Regions from separate parts of the Homo sapiens genome. Here region 1 is linked to region 2. A link means that fine-mapping ties the variant in region 2 to the expression of a gene that starts in the linked region. Tissue or cell type: testis. Region 2 holds a variant in brackets; the other region holds the start of a gene. All regions are shown on one strand. Distances are between the middles of the regions.

Region 1 (5,151 bases), 190 kb before region 2:
TCAAAATTAAAAGGGAATTTCTAACAAAGAGCCTCTAAGAACAATGTGGCTATTTTATGAGGTAGTGAGTAGCTCACCACATCAGATATGCAAAGGGGTGACCCACCCTCCAAGATGCTGTGTATAGCTGACACTGACATGCCAGGCAGGCCCCCAGCCTAGGTAAGCACAGGCTAGCCTTTGACTGTGATCTGAAGCACATATTCTTGGCTCTCTCTTTCGGTGAGGGTCAGTAAGCTATTTTATATGCAAGGACCACATTCTGCTCTTCTGATTCATACGTGACAGACACATTTGGATAAAAGCAGAAATATAACAGGACTGAAAGATTAAAACTTGCTGTCTTAGCATACTTAATATTCACTGATGCTTACACATAATGTAAATATCTCTTTGTTTAAAATGAGTATAGGCTGGTCTCTGTGGCTCACGCCTGTAATCTCAGCACTTTGGGAGGCCAAGAACGGAGGATCACTTGAGCTCAGGAGTTTGAGACCAGCCTGGGCAACACAGCAATACCTCCTTTCTACTAAAAATAAAAAATGAAAAAAAAATTAGTCAAATGTGGTGGCGCACGCCTGTAGTCTCAGCTACCTGGGAGGCCGCAGTGAGAGGATTGCTTGAGCCCAGGAGGTGGAGCCTGCAGTGAGCTGCAATCATGCCACTGCACCCCAGCCTGGGTGACAGAGCAAGACACTCTCTCAAAATAAATAAACAAATAAAACAAGTATTATCTTGACTTTAAAGAAAGAGACTTTCTTGTGACATATAAGCAAAATATGGTCAAAACAATTTGACCAAGGTTGAAAATGGACTGGAATCACTTCTAAGGAGCCAGCCTAGGTCTGTCGAATCAAGTTTGCTCACTAATAATCATACTTTGGTTATGTCGGATGTTAACATTAGAGGAAGAGGGTGGGGGATATAAGGGGATTCTTTGTACTATTTGTGAAACTTGTCTAAAATTATTTCAAAATTAAAAAATAACAAACAAAACCACATCCTTTGCTCCTGAGCCCTGTTCGCCCCAGACATTATGTGATGAACTCACTCCGTTCTTTAAGATCCAGCTCTGCAGAGCATCTCAGATTCCCTGTCCTGAGGCAGGTACTCCTGTATGAGCTCTTAAATACTTCTGCATTTACCTACCACCTACTGGTATGGTTTTCTGACTATATTTCATCTTCTTCGCCTCACGTGGAGTTTCTTTTAGAATGGAAAGTTTTCTTCCTTTCCTCTTTGAATCCTAGCACCAAGGCCACACTCGGCACTGAATACCTGTCTCGAATGAATGAATAAATCAATCTTGTTTGAACAAATCTTATTAGTTTTGCTTTTTTAAAATTATGGTAAAATGTACATAACATAAAAATTTCCATTTTAACCATTTTTAAGTGTATAATTCAGTGACATTAAGTACATTCTAAAGTTGCGCAGGTTTTTTTTTTTAAATCAGTTCTAAATGGTTTAAACTGGCCAGTATTTACTAGAGCTGTTAGATCGACTTAATTTGGACCCATGAGACTCGTGACACTCAGAATTAATCTAATCCCATTTACACCAGGTGCCTCCCATCAAAATCTGTTTGATCAAGTGTGGAATTATTTCATCCCATTGGAACCAGCTCTTGAATCAATCAGAACTGGCTCTGCCAGGCTCCGGGCCAGTAGTCGGTGCTCAAAATGGTGTTTCTTTCTTTGGCCTAATCTCTTGAGTAGCCTCTTTCCCTTTTGTTAATTTTTTTTTTTTTCTGGAGGACAATCTTCCCTGGGAGCTCCCTTCTGCTCCCACGAAGCGCTCTGCACCCAGCCCTGGTGCTGCCTGGCTCTGGGGCAGGGAGCTTGCATTCTGCCACCTCCTTCATTGTCCTCTCGGTATACCTGCACTTTCAAAACAACCCCTGCAGGCAAGCTTTAGAGGCAGCGATAAACAAACAGGCTGACTGAAATTTAGGGAAACGCCTGTATCTGGACAGCCTCTTCAAATATTTGTCACCCCCTCCCTGCTCTGGGGAAAGAAGAGACAGTTCCTCACAGTCACTCTATTTCCTGCCTTCCCAGCTCTGAACACCTTGGCTCGAATGTAAAGAATTTGGCTCTGAATTAGGACTCAAGAAACGGGGCCCTAGCAATTTTCCCTCCATTAACTAAACGCGTCACTTTGGTCATGCCCTTTTGGGGGCAATAATTTCCCAATTCGTAAAATGAAGGGATCAAAGTTTGATTTTTATCATTACTAATGAGAAGAATTATTATTTTTTTGCAGCAGGCTTTTTTTTCCCCAACAAAATATTACTCTGAATAAGACAAGAAAGAATCCCGAACGGCTCTGGCCGTCAGGGTGTGTGTGTCTCCTCCCCATGCTGTCTAACCCCCGTTGGAATTTGGAGGGCTCTTGTCCTTTCCCCTTGGCCTCAGAAGGAGCCCAGCGCGTCCTACCTTGCGTGGGAGTGTGTGTGTGACCAGGGCTCCTTCCTGCCCTTAGAGTCACCGCCCCCTTCTCGCACAGGTTTACAGCACCACTTGCCTCGCCCACTCCCCGCTTTGCCTCCGCCCCATCCTGATGCTGCCGGAATGGCTGTTCCAAATGGAAGGATGCCCGCGTCCGTCCCCTGCCCCAGTCCTTCAACAGGTCCCCACAGACCTCAGGATAAGATGAACGCGGAATTCAGGGCCTGGTCTCAACCGCCCTCTCCCTTTTCCTCTCACTTAGACGACCCTGGCCAGCTGGGCCACTCTCCACTCTCGCCCCCTCCCGCCCTCGTGGCCTCTGTCTAGACCGTACTCCCTCCTACTGGGTGATGTCTCTTCCCCTGGGACCCAGGGACCATCCCGTTGTTGACCTCCGGGGTCAGGGGTGCGGATGGGGGCCGGCCCTTCCCGCGGTCGCCGCCAGGGGGCGGCAGGAGCGGCTCCAGATGACAGCGGGAGGCCGCAAGAGGGGAGGGAGGAAGGACCGAGGGAGCGCGGATCCCGCTCTCGGATCGCAAACTCTGAGCCAGAGCTCTCCGCGCGCGCCTGAACCGCTGGCCGCCCGCGCAGCCCGACGCGGAATCGGGGCACAGCGGGAGCCCGTGCAGGGCGGGCGCGGGGCGGCTGGGCGGCGGTGGCGGCCGTCCATGCGGCGGCGCTCGGGGCTGCCCGGCGCCGGGAACCACGCGGGGGCGAGGCGAGGCGAGGCGGCCGCCGGTCGCTCCGGGACGCGGACCGCCAGGTGAGCAGAGCCGCGCGCCCCGCGTCCCCTGCGCGCCGCCCGCGCGGCCCCGACCCGGCTTCCGCTGCCCAGGCTCCGGCTCCCGCTCTCTGGCCGGCGGGGCGGGCTGGCGCGGGCTACCCAGTGGGTGTGTCCGGGGCGCCGCGGGCTGCGCCGCTCCGGGCTCGGGGAGCCAGCGCGCGCCTGGTCCGTGCGGACGGCTGCGCCTCCTTCTCTGGTTCTCTTCCTTGCTGGGAGTCTTGCTCTGTGCTGGCGCCGGCGCTCATCCCTCCACCCTCGACTCTAGGGACAGTCTTAAACTCTAGGGACAATCCACCTCAGTCGTCCCCGGGTCGGGGCCCCGTGCTCCCCGGGTCGGGTCGGAGGGGACCGGCGAGTGCACACCCAGCCCGTGCGCCCCCCACCTCAGCCTCGCCTCCCTCCCGCCTGGGGCCCGAGAGCCGGGCAAGTCTCGGTCAGCGCTCCTTGAGTCCTGGCCTGGGGCCTCGGATCTGTGTGTCTGTCTGTCTCAGTTTAGTTGCTGCAACCCAGCGAGCGCCTGGAGCCCGAGTGGATGGGTTGTTTCCGCCAACTCTGGACACTTCCTCAAGTGCAGCCTAAGTACCTGCGGCCCCTTGGCGCACTTACAGAAGTAGCTTTTGCACAGCGAGCTCACCTTGGAGCTCTACAGATCTGGAAGTTAAGTTTTCTTTTTATTTGAAATAACATCAGCCCTCACTTGGGAAGGGGATTTTAGGGCGTTCTCGGGCCCACCTAAGTATCTGGAATTTGTGGTCTAGTAAGTTTTTTAAGCAGTCCGCACCCAGCACCGTACCTCCCAGCCTCCTTTGCCGTCTTACTAAAAGTGCATGCTTGCTTCTCTTCCTGTCTCCTTTGCGATCTCTACCACGCTGCGCTTCGCCCTTTTCGGGCTATGAGTCTAAAGCTTGGACGTGGGTAGCAATCATTGGATGCCTGTTGGAATTTGGAATTAGAGAAATAGATACCCGAGAGAGATCTAAGGAATCGCCTTGTCCAACCCTCCTTTCACAGTTGGAGGCACCCAGGACCCCTGACAGTCTGAAGATTTTTCAAGGATCACACAGCTTTTAAAATCCGCGTGTCTTCTACTTGATTAATATTGTTGGAGGTGATGGAGTAACTGGGCTTACTAGGGTCTTACTGGGTCTCAATATACAAAGAAGCAAACATTTTAAAAATGTGACTTAAAATACGGAACTCTTCAATTCCTATAGATTTTTGTTGGCATCATAGTTGAATTCCTTTAGAAAACAAAATCCTAGCCCTGAAATTAATGTGAGGAAGCAAGCAGATGGGCGTCCTGGGACTTTCCTATAAATCTCTGCAGGGCTGGAGCAGGGATTTCCCAGAGGTCTGGGCCTGGGAAATGAGTTTGGGTGATCAGGATACTGGAGCCCCTTCTGAATAAGCAACTGGGTTGGTTTCTTGTGGGGAGGCTGGCCAGTGGAACTCATGTGATCTCCTCTGTGCCCAGCACTGGGCGGGGCACCAGCTTGGCATTACCTTCTTTTTAGTCTCCTATGCCATAAAGAAATATTTCTTACTGGCTGTTAGCGAAAGAAAAATACAGCCCAGAGTTTGGGAGGAAGATCAGGGGTGGGGAGATTTTTGACTTGGAGTTTGTTTTTGTTTTTGCCTCGAAAAACTTGTGGAGATTGCAATCAGTTATCCTACACAGAGGCTGTGTATTGCCGTCTTCTCCATCCCCCACATTTCTCTCCATGGTACCACTTTTATCCTAATTGCTGGGAGTCTCAATGTTTAAATGTTCCCAACACTCCCATTCTGTCCCCCACATTTATAGCTCATTCATCGCAAAATCTCTTCCACATTCTTTTGTGATATCTGAGGAATTATTTACCTGTCTCCATTCCCACTGCCCCCACCTTCAACCATGTCCAAATTACAGTAATAATC
Region 2 (5,151 bases):
CGGTATTCTACCTCTCTGAGTCCGTTTGCTTTATTCAAAAACTCCAAGTTGCTGGGAGGATAAATGAGATTGTTATTGTAAACTGCCCAGCACCTAAGATGCACTAAGATGTGGTAGCTCTTATCACCCTTCCTAGAAAGGTTATTCCGGATGGGGACTGATGCTGTCCAGGAGAAATGGATGAGTAGAGGGAAAGCTGTTTGTTCTTAATAGTAGAATGAAACTCACATGTGTCACTAACCAAGGGGCCTGCCCTGCTGGGACAGGCCTCCCCTTATAGCCCACTCCAAATCTATCCTTCTCGAGTTCCCACTCACTGGAATCTCCAGCCTTCCAGATTTTCTGGGACCTGGAGTTGGCCAGTCACCACCACCATCCTATGCAGCTTTCCCTTTATTACTGGAGGAAGTGTGAAGATAACTTTTTCCCTCAAACGATTGTAAAGAGCTTAAAGGCATTAAGATGAGAGACGGGCCAGGCGCAGTGGTTCATGTCTGTAATCCCAGCACTTTGTGAGGCTGAGGTGGGCAGATCACGAGGTCAGGAGTTCAAGACCAGCCTGGCCAACATGGCGAAACCTCTTCTCTACTAAAAATGCAAAAATCAGCCGGGCGTGGTGGTGGGCACCTGTAATCCCAGCTACTCGGGAGGCTGAGGCAGGAGAATCACTTGAACGTGGGAGGCAGAAGTTGCAGTGAGCCAAGATTGTGCCATTGCACTCCAGCCTGGGTGATAAGAGCAAGACTCTTGCCTCAAAAAAAAAAAAAAAAAAAAAAAAAAAAAAAGGGAATGGTATTATATATTTTTTGATGCCTTCTCTTATGGCCAGTATCTTACTAAACTATTTTATCTCATTTTCATCCTCATAATAACAGAGGTCACACCCAGATTTATCTTTCTTCAAAGCCTGTGCTCATTTCAGTACACTCTCTGCTTCTCAGTTACCTTTACTGAGAAATTAAGGTAAACAAAGCAGCACCAATGAAAAAAGGGTTTGGAAAGGAAGCATTTGTGTTTTATAAAGTATGGGTGTCTAGTCCACTAGTTCAGCAATTTTCTCAACCCTGGTGTCTGTTAGAGCCATACATCTCTGAAATCCTGCTTGAAAGAGAATTCTGTGGCCAAATAAAGTCAGGAGTGCTGCATATAATCTTACCATCTTGACAATGCATAGTGCAGAGTATCATTTTAAAGGTTCTGAGAAGTCCTGCAGTTCAAAACAACCCCAAAACATAAAATTGCTTAACCTTGTGTTTGCCAAACATATTATAGACCCCTGTATGATATGTGAAACATGTATTAATATCCTTGTTGCACTTCTCCTTCACAGAGCATTCTTTAGAAATACCAGTTTGAAGTACAAGCATAAATTTCTCAAATTTTTTAATTGGCCTCATGTCCCAGTCTAGGAGAATATTCAGGCACCATCCCAGAATTTTCTGCCTTGTCCTCTCTCCAGGTCTTGCTCTGCAGTCCTCCCTCAAGCCATACTCTTGGGGAAAACACTTTCCTTCCAGGCTTTGGGACAAATTTGCCTTCCTTGTTCTTGGGGATTCTTCGGAGCTCTGGCCTGTGAAAGTTGCTCTTCTTGACTGACACCCCAACTTTTCTGGCCTGTTGGTGGCTGAACACCTCCTCACTAGCCACGTGTTAAGGCTGGCTCAGTAAATATGCCCAGGTCCTCCATGATGGGAAGTTAGGTTGTCATGTAGCCATAGTTATGGCGGTGGCTGTGTGACCTCTGTGTCACCGTCTTCCCACATGTAACTTGGTATTATACCCAGTTTCTACATCTGTGTGATTGATGTGTATGTTAAGTACATTGGATGTGCCAGCATACTGAATTTTTAAGACCTAAGTGTGTCAAGGGCCCTCAAGATCATCCTCAGCCTTGATGATTTGCTAAAAGAAATCACAGTACTTAAAAACCCATTCAGGCCAGGCACGGTGGCTCACGCCTGTAATTCCAGCACTTTGGGAGGCTGAGGCAGGTAGATCATGAGGACAGGAGTTCAAGACCAGCCTGGCCAACATGGTGAAACCAGTCTCTACTAAAAATACAAAAATTAGCCAGGCATGGTGGGGGGCACCTGTAATCCCAGCTACTTGGGAGGCTGAGGCAGAGAATTGCTTGAACCTGGGAGGTGGAGGTTGCAGTGAGCTGAGATCGCACCACTGCACTCTCCAGCCTGGGCGACAGAGCTAGACTCCATCTCAAAAACAAACAAAAAATGCTTTCATACTCACACTTATGGTTTATTACAGTGAAAGGATACAAATAAAAATTAGCAAAAGGAGAAGGCATATGGAGCCAAGTCCAGGAGAAATCAGGCACAGGATTCTAGGGATCCCCTCCCAGTGGAGTTGCACAGGGATGTGCTTAATTCTCCCAGCAACAATGTGTGATGATACATGCTTCCCCACCAGGGAAGCATGCCAGAGCCTTGGTGTCCAGAGTTTTTACTGGGGCCAGTCATAGAAGCATGCAGCACCTGTGTGACTGACCTCTAGTTTCTCCCAACCCAACCTCCTCTACCCTCCAGCAAAAACAGGCATTCACCCTGAATACTGGGTGG[T/G]CTATGTTCTCAGACATACAAAAACACTCTTATCAGGACAGTATTCCAAGGACCCAGAGGTTACCTCCCAGGAGCCTCCAAGGGTCAGTCCTTGAGGCAGGCCTTTCTCTGGAATATGCAAGGTTTGAGCATCGCAGGCCTGCTGAGTTAGCTTTTTCTTAACCCTTCCCTGCCTACTCGGGTTTAACTTGTCCTTTTAAGTTGCTACTTTTCTTAGAATGATTGAATTCAAGTCAAATAACAGGTTCTTCACATTGATTCTTTTTCCTGCTAGGGTGCTTATTGAAATATGGAAGACAATATTTGGGCTTGGTTTGAAAGATCAGGAGAGCCCTGTCTCCTTCCTTGCTTTTTATTTTGTTTTCTTTATTTTTTACTGAGGTAAAATTCATAGAACATAACATAGCCATTTTACATTGTGCAGTTCAGTGGCCTTCCATGTGTTCATGTGGATCAGTTCTTCCTTCATTTTAATTGCCAAGTAATATTCCATGGTTTGGATATATCATTTTGTTTATCCATTCCTCTGTTTATGGACATGGGTTGTTTCCACTTTTTAGCTATTATGAATAATGCTGCTATGAATATTCACGTGCAAGTTATCGTGTGGCCTTGGGTATATGCCTGGGAGTGGAAGTGCCCAGCCATAGGATAACTCCACAGTTACCTTTTTGAAGAACTGCTAAATTGTTTTCCACAGCAGCTGCAGCATTTTACATTTCCACCAGCAACGTATGAGGGTTCCAAGTTTTCCACATTCTTGTCAACCTTTGTTATTGTCCATCTTTTTAACTCTAGTCATCCTAGTGGGGAGTGAAGTGGTTTCTTGTGCTTTTGTTTTTTGGAGACTCACTTCATTGCCCAGGCTGCAGTGCAGTGGCACTATCTCGGCTCACTGCAACTTCCGCCTCCCAGGCCCAAGTGATTCTCCCACTTCAGCCTCCCGAGTAGCTGTGATTACAGGCGCATGCCACCATACCCAGCTAATTTTTTGTATTTTCAGTAAAGACAGGGTTCACCATGTTGGCTAGGCTGGTCTTGAACTCCTGAGCTCAGGCAATCCGCCTGTCTCAGCCTCCCAAATTGCTAGGATTACAGGCATAAGACACCACACCTGGCCTGTTTTATTCTTAATGACTAATGTTGAGCATATTACTGACCATTGTATGTCTTCTTTGGAAAAATACCTATTCAAATCCTTTACCTATCTATAAATTAGGTTGCCTGTCTTTTTATTGTTAAAGTGTAAGCGTTCTTTATATATTCTGAATACTTACCAGATATATAATTTGCAGATATTGTCTTCCAGTGTGGGGTTGTCTCTTCACTTTCTTAATAGTGTCCTTTTAAGCACAAAAGTTTTAAATTTTGATGAAGTCTAATTTACCCATTTTTTCTTTGGCTGCATGTACATTTGATGTCCTATTTGAGAAACCATTACCTAGTCTGAGGCCATAACGATTTACACTTAGGTTTCTTTCTGAGATTTATAGTTTTAGATCCCTGACCCATTTTGAGTTAGTATTTGTAAATGGTGTGAGAAAGTGGTCCAACTTCATTCTTTTGCATGTGGATATCCAGTTGTCCAACCACAATTTGTTGAAGAGACGATTTTTCCACCATTGAATGATTTGGGCACTCTTGTTGACCGTATATGTATGGGCTTGTTTTCTGTTTCTTTCTTAATAAAAAGATATACTTGACAGAGGAAGGTGTGGCATGCAGGCCGTGTTACACAGAGAATATGGGCTGCCTGAAACAGCCCCAGTGCTGACCTCTGCTACTTTCCTCCCTACCTCATGTACTCGCAGATGGACACCCAGCATTGATGGCTCTCCACCTGTATAGCTTGTCTTCACCCTGCAAATATTTATTATTCATACAGCTCCTAAAAGGTTGGGGAAGGATGTCAGCTGACATACCATAGAAAGCTATCAGTTGGATAATGCTAGTATTAGGAGGTGATTTTCAAACCGTGGTCCTTGGTACCCTGCCTCCTCTAATCCAAGTACTTCTGCTATTATGATTTTACCTACCTATCTGTCTTTTAGCATGTTTTCATTTTAGGAAATCAGCACAGACCTTATGATTCTCTTACACTGTGGGACTAGGAGAGATCCATTAGAATCCAGTTTATCACTAAGTTGAAAGGATGCCTGGAACATATGTAAATGTCTCTGTGGGGGCCAAGGAAACTTCCCCTTTGCCTTCTGAAGGCTCATTGAGAAATCAGCTCACAAAAGCCAGATTAATTGGAGAAACATGTGTACATAGGTCCCTTCAGAACGAAGACCTAAAGATACAGGGAAAAGTGTCCATATTTTTAAAGTATCCATTTTTATGCTTAGGTTCAACAAAGTATGGACAGCCATGTAGAAACATGGTTGACAAAAAGGATGTGATCTAATGCTAATAGACTGAGTGGGGGAAACTCAGCAGGGCCTGCCTATCTAGATTCTTCTTGGCCTCTCTAAGCTTGCATTCATTCCTTCTGGGTGACCTCTCTGGAATGGAGGGGGGTTCTTATGACTGTCAAACAAGGTAGGTCAGATAATTTCTTTATGGCCAGTTTTTA

Alleles and levels. Positions count from the first base shown, and alleles are read on the strand shown. Sizes are in standard deviations (SD) of each study's normalised expression.
For the expression in testis of the gene that starts at base 2,986 in region 1, G is the low allele of the variant in region 2 and T is the other (small effect, 0.34 SD a copy in GTEx).

The links. PIP is the estimated chance that this variant, and not a neighbour inherited with it, causes the effect.
Region 1: THSD4 starts here. The variant in region 2 is fine-mapped to the expression of THSD4 in testis (GTEx, PIP 0.97).

Annotation. Positions count from the first base shown.
Region 1 is chr15:71,112,486-71,117,636 of GRCh38, forward strand. THSD4 (thrombospondin type 1 domain containing 4) reads left to right here and starts at 2,986. Exons shown (of 18, transcript NM_024817.3): 1 at 2,986-3,213. It overlaps CT62 (cancer/testis associated 62), which reads right to left and starts at 3,019. Exons shown (of 4, transcript NR_168260.1): 1 at 2,439-3,019; 2 at 1,146-1,278. RefSeq lists silencers at 2,800-2,849, 2,886-3,063, 2,910-2,969, 3,000-3,139, 3,290-3,379.
Region 2 is chr15:71,305,554-71,310,704 of GRCh38, forward strand. The region is part of intron 6 of THSD4 (thrombospondin type 1 domain containing 4); the gene reads left to right. LOC124903520 (a long non-coding RNA gene) reads right to left here and starts at 780. Exons shown (of 2, transcript XR_007064700.1): 1 at 1-780. The variant T/G (reference allele first, on the strand shown) is at 2,577.